3 linked regions of the Homo sapiens genome follow. The protein of the gene in region 3 purifies or fractionates together with the protein of the main gene of each other region. This does not show direct contact. Each region holds a gene or a part of one and is shown on either strand. Other genes may lie near its edges.

The links.
Region 1: the proteins of TANGO2 (region 3) and BPNT1 fractionate together in Homo sapiens (co-fractionation; one large-scale study listed by BioGRID). This does not show direct contact.
Region 2: the proteins of TANGO2 (region 3) and MAP4K5 fractionate together in Homo sapiens (co-fractionation; one large-scale study listed by BioGRID). This does not show direct contact.

Annotation. Positions count from the first base shown.
Region 1 is NC_000001.11:220,086,952-220,091,086, reverse strand, and holds the start of BPNT1 (3'(2'),5'-bisphosphate nucleotidase 1), read left to right. Parts: upstream 1-1,298; 5' UTR 1,299-1,401; exon of another isoform or gene 1,402-1,443; intron 1,444-4,135. UniProt on the Homo sapiens protein: Phosphatase that converts 3'(2')-phosphoadenosine 5'-phosphate (PAP) to AMP and inositol 1,4-bisphosphate (Ins(1,4)P2) to inositol 4-phosphate. Is also able to hydrolyze adenosine 3'-phosphate 5'-phosphosulfate (PAPS) to adenosine 5'-phosphosulfate (APS).
Region 2 is NC_000014.9:50,442,066-50,445,714, reverse strand, and holds part of MAP4K5 (mitogen-activated protein kinase kinase kinase kinase 5), read left to right. Parts: intron 1-520; coding exon 521-674; intron 675-1,678; coding exon 1,679-1,776; intron 1,777-1,944; coding exon 1,945-1,986; intron 1,987-2,898; coding exon 2,899-2,983; intron 2,984-3,649. UniProt on the Homo sapiens protein: May play a role in the response to environmental stress. Appears to act upstream of the JUN N-terminal pathway.
Region 3 is NC_000022.11:20,052,072-20,055,720, reverse strand, and holds part of TANGO2 (transport and Golgi organization protein 2 homolog), read right to left. Parts: intron 3,257-3,649; coding exon 3,137-3,256; intron 2,362-3,136; coding exon of another isoform or gene 2,285-2,361; coding exon 2,170-2,284; intron 1-2,169. UniProt on the Homo sapiens protein: May be involved in lipid homeostasis.

The sequences.
Region 1 (4,135 bases), on a different chromosome or scaffold from region 3:
GGAGAATAGCTTGAACCCTGGGAGGCAGAGGTTGCAGTGAGCCGAGATCAAGCCATTGCACTCCAGCCTGGGCGACAGAGTAAGACGCCGTCTCAAAAAATATATATATGTATATATGTGTGTGTGTGTGTGTGTGTATATATATATATATATATATATATATATATATATATATGGTTAAAGTAATATAATTTAAGTTATGTATATTTTTCCACTTCCCAAAAAGGGTCTACTTAACTCACAGAGTTATTGTGAAAATCAAATGAAGACGTAAAAGCCTTTTTAAGCTGGGCGCAGTGGCTCACACCTGTAATCCCAGCACTTTGGGAGGCCGAGGTGAGCAGATCACCTGGGGTCAGGAGTTCAAGACCAGCCTGGCCAATATGATGAAACCCCGTCTCTACTTAAAAAACAAACAAAATTAGCCCGGCGTGGTGGCGCGCCTGTAGTCCTAGCTACTTGGGAGGCTAAGGAGGAAGGATCGCTTGAACCCAGGAGGAGGAGGTTGTAGTGAACCTAGACTGCGCCACTGCACTCCAGCCTGGGCGACAGGATGAGACACTGCCCCCTTCCCCAACCACGCCCCCCAGTAAAAGATCCCATCTGTACACAAAAAATATTTTAATTAGCTGGGTGTGGTGGCGCGCACCTCCACCAGTAGTCCCAGCTACACGGAAGGCTGAGGCGGGAGGATGGCTTGAGCCTAGAAGTGGGAAGGCAGCAGTGAGCCGTAATCGACTCTGGGCGACAGAGCAAGCTATCTATCGCTTAAAAAAAAAAAAAAAAAAAAAAAAAAAAAGGTAAGCAAGCATCTTTGACACAATTCTGCATAAAGTTGCTGTGTTATTGCGTGGGGAGTGGGAGGTGGAGGTGTGTGTGGTGGACCTGCTGAAGCCTGTCCACGGACCGCTAGGGGTTCGAAGTTAAATAGCCGCAGAGTGGTATCACTAATACAAAGAACATTTTAAAACAGTGAACTCTACGAAGTGGGCTGGAAGACAGCTGAAACCAAAACCAATCTTTTTTTTGTTTCAACACACTGTTGCTGGCTTAATGTGTTCTTTCCTTCTTCTTTTTCTTTTTTTAGCCAATCTTTGAAAGTTGACACATCTTTCGCTTTTATTTAATGCAACAGGTGACTTGCACCTACGGAGAGCTTGGAGAAAACACGGACAAGTGGAATTTTCCCGCGGATCAGGAGTCTAAAGAGGCAGTGTGAAATCGCTGTTGTGCGCTTGCGCGCAGTTTCCCGCATGCTCAGTAGCTGAGGTAGGGATGCCATCCTTCTCAAAAGACTTATTGACAGTGCCAAAGCTCGGTACTGGACACAACGAGGGACCTGGGTCTACGATAACGCGCTTTTGCTCCTCCTGAAGTGTCTTTGGTCCAACGTTGTTCCAGGTTTGTCACCGTTTCTCTCCGGCCGGTCAGGGCAAGAGCCAGGTAGATAGGATTTATGTTAAAAAAATAAAACGAAAAAGGTTTATGTGAATCAGATTGCTTCTCCAGATATTCTAACTTCCGACTTGGACTCTTGAGTGTCGATATTTTAATTGTTTATCTGTGCTTTTATTTTCGTGATCCGGAAGGTTTTTATAGCCATATACTGTAGAAACAAGACAAACCTAGACATTGAGTTTGTTGATGCACCCAAATTTAGAAACTGCTTGGTACCTAAAATTAAATTTCTTTAAACAGCAAATATTCTTCCAACTGCCATTTCTACATATTTATAGGTTTGCGTGATTTATTTGGATTTCTCTGTAAATATAATTGTTGGTTCAAAAGATACGTACTTTATACTTTTATTAAGGTTCTCAAAACTCTCCTAAGAGGGTTCACCGCTTTGCCAACAATGCTCAGGAACATGTTCCCTCACACCCTTGCAAACTGGACAAAGGACAAACTCTTCTTCTTTCTTCTTTTTTCTTCTTCTTCTTCCTCCTCCTTCCTCCTCCTTCTTTTTTTTTTTTTTTTTTTTTTTTCGAGACGGAGTCTCGCTCTGTCGCCCAGGCTTGAGTGCAGTGGTGCAATCTCGGCTCACTGCAAGCTCCACCTCCCAGGTTCACGCCATTCTCCTGCCTCAGCCTCCCGAGTAGCTGGGACTACAGGCGCCCACCACCAAGCCTGGCTAATTTTTTTTGTATTTTTAGTAGAGACGGGGTTTCACCGTGTTAGTCAGGATGGTTTCGATCTCCTGACCTCGTGATCTGCCCGTCTCGGCCTCCCAAAGTGCTGGGATTACAGGCGTGAGCCACCGCGCCCAGCCTTTCTTTCTTTCTTTTTTTTTTTTTTTTAAGACAGGTTCTAGCTCTGTCCCCCAGGCTGGAGTACAGTGGTGCCATTATGTCTCACTGCAACCTTGACCTCCCAGGGTCTGGTGATTCTCCCACCTCAGCCTCCCGAGCAGCTGGGACTACAGGCATGTGCCACCACACCATCTAATTTTTGCATTTTTTTGTAGAGACGAGGTTTTGCCATGTTGCCCAGGCTGGTCTCGAACTCCTGAGCTCAAGCAATACACCAGCCTTGGCCTCCCAAAAAGTTCTAGGATTACGGGTGTGAGCCACTGCATTCAGCGACAATTTTTTTTTTTTTTTTTTTTTTTGAGTCGGAGTCTCTGTCGCCCAGGCTGGACTGCAGTGGCGCGATCTCGGCTCACCACAACCTCTGCCTCCTATGTTCAAGCAATTTTCCTGCCTCAGCCTCCTGAGTAATTTTTGTATTACTATGCCTGGTTAATTTTTGTATTTTTAGTAGAGATGGGGTTTCACCATGTTGGCCAGGCTAGTCTTGAACTCCTAACTTCAGGTGATTCACCTGCCTTGGCCTCCCAAAGTGCTGGGATTACAGGTGTGAGCCACCGTGCCCTGCCAAATTTTCTTTTCTATGCCAATCTTAAAAATAAACAATCATGGCCCGGCGCGGTGGCTCACGCCTGTAATCCTAGCACTTTGGGAGGCTTAGGCAGGCCATGAGGTCGGAAGTTCGAGACCAGCCTGACCAACATGGAGAAACCCTGTCTCTACTAAAAATACAAAATTAGCCAGGTGTGGAGATGCTTGCCTGTAATCCCAGCTACTCGGGAGGCTGAGGCAGGAGAATCGCTTAAACCCGGGAGGCAGAGGTTGCGGTGAGCCAAGATCTCGCCATTGCACTCCAGCCTGGGCAACAAGAGCAAAAACTCTGTCTCAAAAAATAAATAAATTAATTAATTAATTAAAAATAAAATAATCATTTCTCATTGTTTTAGTTTGCATTTCTTTCATAATTAGTGAAGCTGAGTATTTATGTATTTAATGGCCAGTGCTTTTCTCTTTGTAGGTGTTGCCCGTTCTTGTTTATTTGCTCATTTTTCTATTGGATTATTCAGCTTTTATATACTGATCTTTTACAAATTAAGTCATTTGTCTGGTATGTGATACAATATTTTTTTCTCATTTTGTCAAGTACCTGTTTATTTAGTTTATGGTATTTTGGCCATGTAGAAGTTTTAATTTTATTTTTATTTATTGATTGATTGATTTTGAGACGGAATCTCGCTCTGTCACCCAGGCTGGAGTGCAATGGTGCAAATGATCTCAGCTCACTGCAACTTCTACCTCCCAGGTTCAAGCAATTCTCCTGCCTCAGCCTCCTGAGTAGCTGGGATTACAGGCGCGTGCCACCAAGCCCGGCTAATTTTTGTATTTTTAGTAGAGACAGGGTTTCACCAAGTTGGTCAGGCTGGTCTTGAACTCCTGACCTCGTCATCCGCCCGACTTGGCCTCCCGAAGTGCTGGGATTACAGGCCACCGCGCCCAGCAACTCTTAGTTTTATAGAGTCAAATTTATCAATAGAATATTTTATGGATTCTTGGTTTTATGCTTAAAGGGCATTTACCAAGCTTATGAAGTTTATAATTTTTATTTCCATGCTTTTATGGTTTCTTTTTTTACTTTTATAAACCATGCATTGAAATGTATTTATATCAAAATGTATTTATATCAAAATATCAAAAGAATGCAAAAAGGACTCAACTTTTTTTTTTTTTTTTTTTGAGACGGAGTCTTGCTCTGTCGCCCAGGCTGGAGTGCAGTGGCACCATCTCGGCTCACTGCAACCTCCGCCTCCCAAGTTCGAGCAATTCTCCTG
Region 2 (3,649 bases), on a different chromosome or scaffold from region 3:
GCTTGTAATCCCAGCTACTTGGGAAGCTGAGGCATGAGAATCGCTTGAACCCAGGAGGTGGAGGTTGCAGTGAGCTGAGATCGTGCCACTGCACTCCAGCCTGGGTGACAGAGCGAGACTCCATCTCAGTAAAAAAAGAAAGAAAGAAAAAGGCAAAAACAGGTTATTGCTTATTGAAGAAAATATTTGACTACATGGAGGGGAAACAGTTCATCATTTATCATTCTTATGACTACAATTTGACATATTAGTGGAGTCATTTTTCTTGATTGTTTCTAGTTGTTTTGTGGATTTTTATATAATTATATTAGTTATAAAAATTTTATCAGTTTTAAGGCTGATTAAAAATCACATGGCAAGTTGATAGTTGTGTTGGGCAGTAACTCACCTCTTACTTTGCTCACTTAGCCCAGTGAATTGAACTGTATAGAAGAATGAAAAAAGGTGCATTTCCCTTTCCCTAAAGACTCTGATGCCTAATGATAACTGTTAAAGTACTTTTTTGTCTTTGTACCACTAGCCAAGGATAAGCAGTTACCCTGAAGACAACTTTCCGGATGAAGAAAAAGCATCAACCATAAAACATTGTCCTGATTCAGAAAGCAGAGCTCCCCAAATTCTCAGAAGACAGAGTAGCCCAAGTTGTGGGCCTGTGGCAGAGACTTCTTCTATTGGTATGGCTAGCATTATTAGCAGCCATGGGGTACATATGGCTAGATATTGTTATCTGGGTGAATAAATCAAAGTGAAAACTGAAATGAGAGTCATTTGTTCCTATTTCAAAAAATATCTTTTTTATTTAGTCAATCCTATTATAGCTTAAAGCTTTGTAAAGGCTCTTTAATTCTGCATGGATGGGCTATAAATAGATTTCAGTTCACTTCAATCCTAATTTGAATCCTTACTAAATATTTATTATAGGATCTAGAAGGGTGAATGCATGTTTCTGCCCCCAGAACTTCAGGGTCTACAGCAGAAGGTATACCCACATACACATAACATTAGGAAAGACAGTTTATGTATGTGTCTTCTGAAATAATTACCTGGATGTAACAGAAGACCAGAGATTTCTGAGGGAGATAAAGATGGGGAATAAGGAAACTAAGCTCTTGCAGGATTTTTTTTTTCTGTAGAGATGGGGTTTCGCCGTGTTGCCCAGGCTAATCTCAGACCCCTGGGCTCAAGTGATCCGCCTGCCCCAGCCTCCCAAAGTGCTGGAATTACAGGCATGAGTGACCGTACCTGGTCCTTCTTGCAGGATGTTAAAGGGCTTGGTGAGCCTTCAGTAGGTAGATGAAATGCACTGAAGCTGGGAAATCTGAATTATGCAGTCTATTATAATAGAAATGTGAGCTTTTAAAGGGTATATACTGGAAGATACAACTGAAAAGGTGGATTGAAGTTCAATTATAAAAAGCCTTGCATATCAGAGTCAGTAGGTCAGATTTTTTTTCTTCATGATACGGAAAAACATGGATTAAGACCACTGCTAAAGATGCAATGCTACCTCTATAGAATCTAGAGAAAGACACCAAAGATAACTTACCTGAGAGTAGAGAATATTCCCCAATAAAGGATCACCCAAGTGAAAGACAAATAGTGGGAGAAAGGGGAAATAATTTTTCAAGGAAAGTGCTTATTTGTGTGGTCATTCAACTTTTAACATGATTCTCTTTAGGAAATGGTGATGGTATTTCAAAACTGATGAGTGAAAATACAGAAGGATCAGCACAAGCACCACAGTTACCACGAAAAAAGGACAAACGAGACTTCCCTGTAGGTATAACAGGCATTTAGCAATTAGTTGTAAATAATACTATATTTATCATGCAAGGGGCATAGTCTGTTTAATTCAGTAATTCAAGTAACAGAAGTTCTAAATGTCTCAAGTTTCTTTTTAAGACTTAGGAGGTCTTACACTAGTAAATTTTATTTTTCCCATAGAAACCAGCCATCAATGGCCTTCCACCCACCCCAAAAGTTCTGGTAAGGAATATTTTTATGTGAACTATTTGCCGTTTTTTCTCTCTTTAGAAGCAGCAATATATTGGCTATCAATATACTTGAGCCTTTGAAAGTTAAGATATCATAAAATACAAAGATATTGAATGCATTTGGATATCTCATCATGTATTCTAATTTGAGTGTGTGAATTGGAATTGACAGTGTTTCACTTTTTGTAAATACTGGCAGTTGAGTCATCAGATTAGCCTACAAAGGCCTATTTAATTTTAATGCGATGATATTAATAGTACTGTGTCCTCTTCTTGATGTGGATTAAATATCTTTCTACCTCTAAAGTGATTTTCACATTGGACTATATACAATTAAAAGGAACCAGGGAAGCTTATATTAATGCATTTTCCTGGCCAGTCAGTGGAACTTATCTGTGAATGGGAACCCCATGATCCCATGAATGGGATGGGAACCAATCGTATGAATGGGATGCTTTATACATTGTCCTTTTTTATTCAGTGAAAGTCTAATGTATAATATAAATATCAACCTTTTTGTCTCTTATGACTATTAAAGAGTTATACTGCAATTGTAATCACTATAATGTTACTGAATAAAATTATCCATTGTTTCACATTAATAATTGTCAGTCCTAAAAAATAGTAGTAACTTAAAATTCCTAGACTATGTTATTGATGTATGTAGATCTTTTGGTAAATTTGATATTTGTGCCATAAAATAGTGGATTACAAAAGGAAAGAATATGAGACTGTCTTGGTAGTAGGGGTTTAATGATGTGAAAATATGAATTTTGTTTTGGAATGAAACAACAAGCATACGCAAATAAGAGTTAATTTGGTATTTCAATGATGTTAGTTATTTTCCAAGAATATATAAAATTTTCTAATCAAATAAGTTAACATTTCTTTCTTTATAAATAAGATGGGAGCATGCTTTTCAAAAGTTTTTGATGGCTGTCCTTTGAAAATTAATTGTGCAACATCCTGGATACATCCTGATACAAAAGGTAAAATGTTTGAATTTTATATACATCTCCAATAAAATATTTATTATGGGAAAGATCTTTATGATCAGTGACTTGAAGTTGTTTATTTTAAAAATACGACTTTAGAGACCTAATGGTATAGGAACCTGCAACAACCTAAATAGGTCAATAGGGTTTTGGTTTAAAGGCGTTAAAATTTAGGAGTGTATAGGAGCTATTCTTGATTAAAGGACTAAAGAGAAATCACAACTGATTGCATCCTTAATTTAGAATTTTCTTTTACCGTAAAAGGACGTTATTGGGACAATTTATAATCTCAATTAGTAAGAATTATAGATAACCTTGTTTATTGTTTAAGTATTAATGTCTTGTGGTTATATGACTTTTTTTCCTTAATGTACACAAATATTTCAAAGTAAAGAGGCATCATGCTCATAAGTTATCTTAAACAGCTCAGAAAACAAACATTTACATAAGGAAGAGAGAAGGATCAAGCAGAAGTAGTAAATGTTCAACATTTGTGGAATTTGTGTTACAGGTATTTAGGAATTATTTGTACTATTACAACTTTTCTGTACATCTGAAATGATGTTAAAATAACTTTTTTAAAATGTAGACTATGTTTCTGAAGTGAGGAAACATTTTCAGAGGCAAAAATTTGGAATCAAATAAATCTGGGTTTGGATT
Region 3 (3,649 bases):
TCGGGGCCCACCAGCCCAGGAGGCACAGGATCTAAAATGCCCTCCTGCCATGCCGAATGCCCCATGGCATGGACACACAGAGGCTGCCCATGGGGACAACTGCAGGGCTGAGCCCCATCCCCACATCACCAACCTCTCCATCAGGCCCCTTACCACAGCTCATCTATGAGGGTTTCTGGACAGGTGGCCCCAGTGTGGCCCCAGGGTGATCGAGGCTTCCAAAGAAAGCGCCAAAGACCACATTTTCCTACTCTCAAGTGTTAAGTGTACACTTTAAAATAGTTAAGGGACAGTAGAGCTGGGCATAGTGACTCATGCCTATAGTCCCAGCTAATCTGGAGACTAAGGAGGGAGGACTGCTTGAGGCCAGGAGTTTGAAACCAGACTGGGCAACATAGCAAGACCCCATCTCTACAAAATAAATAAATCATTTTTTAAAAAGAAAATAGTTCAAAATGCTCCCCAGCTGAAAATATTCCAATCCTCAATACCACAGTAAGTCTTCTAGAACTTGGAGTGCCTTTTTTGCAAAGTGAAGAGGATCTCTTTGTGGCCTGTGAGATGCCCTCCCAGGCCAGATGCTGGGCATGGAGCCCTGGGCCTTCAAGATGGAACAGATGCAGAGAAAGAGCCAGGCATGGTGCCTTCCTCCCCGAAGTGCTGCCCCCAGGTGGGACCCACCTTCCCCACCCCTGGTAGGCTTCAAGGGCCCCCCCGTCTATGTTCACATTCCACTCCCGTTCTTCCTCACCATGGTCTTTGGCAACTTTCCTAAGATACTTGGTTCATAATTTCAGAGACTGTTTGCAGGCAAAAATCTCCTCTGGGCTTTCTGTGTAAGGACCTACAGAACTGGACACCCATGCTGCCAGCACTATACCACAGGCCAGGCGGAGGGCAGGCCTCACCCAGGGATAGCTGTGGCCATGACAAGCCTCTCTCCCTTCCAGGCCTTGGCTTCCTCATCTGCACCTACCAGCAGGGCTGCTCACTGACCTCCGATGCCCCCGCCCTCCAGCCTCGGCCCTGGCACCAGCTTTTGCCTGACCTGTGGTATGCTCTCCTGGCCACTGCCTGTATCCTCAGGCTAGGTCCAGGAGGCTGACCCTCACTCTGCAGCCTTTGGAGCCGGGAGAGTTGCACAGGCTCTGAGGAGCCCAAACCCCCAACCCCCAACCACAGGAGCCCGTGTATCTGCTCAAGGCATGGCACCCTTGGCACCCCACCTCCACACAGCTGCTGAGTGCCAAGTCCTGCTGGTGCCACGGCCGCAGAGGAACTCTCCTGAGACTAATCAGACCCACATGGAACTACTGACCGGGAAAAGTGGTTCCTGAGCATGGGGGCATGCAGAGAGCACAGGGGCTCTGCCACCTGGAGTCACGAAGGCATGGGCAGGAAGAACGGCTCCGGACAGCAAGTGCCCCGCACCAGCCCTCGGCCTTCCACCTAGGGGACACTGCAACTCTCCCAGCCTCCATAGCAAGTGTGCAGACCCATGTGGGGCAGGGCTGGGCATGCCACACACAAGGGATGCTCAACGAACAGCAGGCCTGGAGCTCGGGAGCCAGGAGAGAGGCCCATGGACCTGCCCTTGTGGAAGGAGGCAGCTTCAGGGCCCGCCACAATGTGCCGACCACTTCCCGTTTGCCTGTCCTGGCAGAAGGCCCCGGACTAACAGCATTGGCCAAGTTCTGGGGCTTTGGAGGGGGAGGAGGGCAGGAGGGAGGAATGCTCACTTCACGGAAGGGCAAAACACCAAAACCTCCGCAGTTCCTGCGGCCTCATCTCCAACAGGAGCTTCCCTGGGAGCACAGCATCCCAGTCACTCCAAGCCAGGGCTGCGGAGGGCTGCTCTGCACAGCCTGCCCGTGGGAGGGAGGACACCCGGCCAGAGCCACTCTATGTGACTGTTCTTCACAGCCTCAGCTTTCTCCAGGGATCCGGCAGCCCTCATGCCATCACAGGAAGCCTTGGGCTTCACCCCCAAATACCCGAGTTGGTACATCTGTGACAGGCTCAGTCCTCAGAATGTTTGCCAAGTCACGAGGAGCAACGTCCCTGGAGAGGCTGCCACAGCCCCCAGTGGAACCCCACTTCCTGATGAGCCTGAGGCCTGCCCCCGAGGCAGTGCTGGGCAGAGCCGCCATCCCCCTCTGGCAGACCCACCTCAGGTCGGCTGCTATGAGGTTGAAGCCATTGTACAGATGGCCCTCCATAGAGACCTTCTTCAGGTAGGACAAGCTGTCCACGTCAGTGGTCAGAAAGTGGGTGACAAGTTCACCTGTAGGCAGGGGACAGATGCTGTGTCCACAGCTGCAGGCATGTGCTCTTCTCCCAGGAACACTGATATGGGGCCCCCTGGGGAGGATGCAGGAAGATGAGGGGTCCCACTGGAGCCCTGGCCTGTCATGACTGCCGCAAGAGTCAGCCACACCTCATTAGCCTGGCTGCCACTCAGGTCGGCACTGAAAACTGCTCATTTTATTAAAAAAAAAATTTCCCCACTATGTCTTCCTATGGAAATCCAGCATGAAGTAAACAACACCTTTCAGTGGGGACAATGTGTGTCCACAGAGCTGTCGTCTCGGGGAAGGCATCTACTCTACAAACATTCCAGGCAGGGGACAGTGACACAGCAGTCAGGAGTGCCATGCATGAGGACAAGGGGAGAGTGCGCCCTGAGAGGAGTAAACAGTGCTGCGTGGGTCAGGTGGGAGTGGGCTCCTGGCTGCGACGCCAGAGGGCCAGGGTGTGGGAAATGGGATGCTCCCCTCCTCACTCTTCCTGTCTCTGCCGCATACCCCTGCAGCACACCTCAGTGGCGGCAGTGATATGCCCACGGAAGCCACCCACCTGCCACGGGGCCCAGCTTCCCCCTTCTTGTCCCCACCCTTACCTGGGCCCTGCCCTGCCACGCTTTGTCACCGCCCACTCTGTAACCTGGCCCTGCCCCACGGTACCTCAGCCCTGCCCCATCCCACTCCCAAGCACAAGCACCTTGGCACTTCCTACCTTGGCCCGCCCCACTCCACCATACATTGGCCAGTCCTGTAGTCCCTTGGCCCCACCTTGTCTCACCTAGGCCTGCCCCACCCCACCCTGTCTCACCTTGGCCCCACCCCACTCGCCTTACCTCGCCCTCGGGCCTGCCAGTCCAGCTGCGGCTGCAGGTAGTTGGTGAGTGCTGCCAGCTTGCCACGTGTGCTGATGCCCAGCCATGTGCCTCCTTCCTTGCCTTCCTCCATGTCCAGCCCTGTGGCAGATGACAGTGTTACCACCATTGATGCCACCCATTCCAGTCCCCCACCTGGTTCCCAGCCCTGGGAGACGCATACTCGGCCCAGCTCCTGCCTCAAGCTCCTCGAGGACGTTCGACATGCGGCTTGGCCCAGCAGCCCCAGCTATGGAATCGTGGCTGGAACTCTTCAAGGCCAGGCAGCCCCTGGGGTTCATGGGTCGTGCAAGTGAGATCCCTGTCCTGCAGGACAACTATGACACCAACCACACCTATCCCAACAGATGCCCTGCAGAACACATCCTTCCACTTGGGCCAGCGTCAAGGCTGAGGGGCAGCACTAGGCTCCAATCGCATGAATGGGGTGCAGGGACGCTGGCTGTCCTCACCCAGCAGGATGCACCAGGCCCA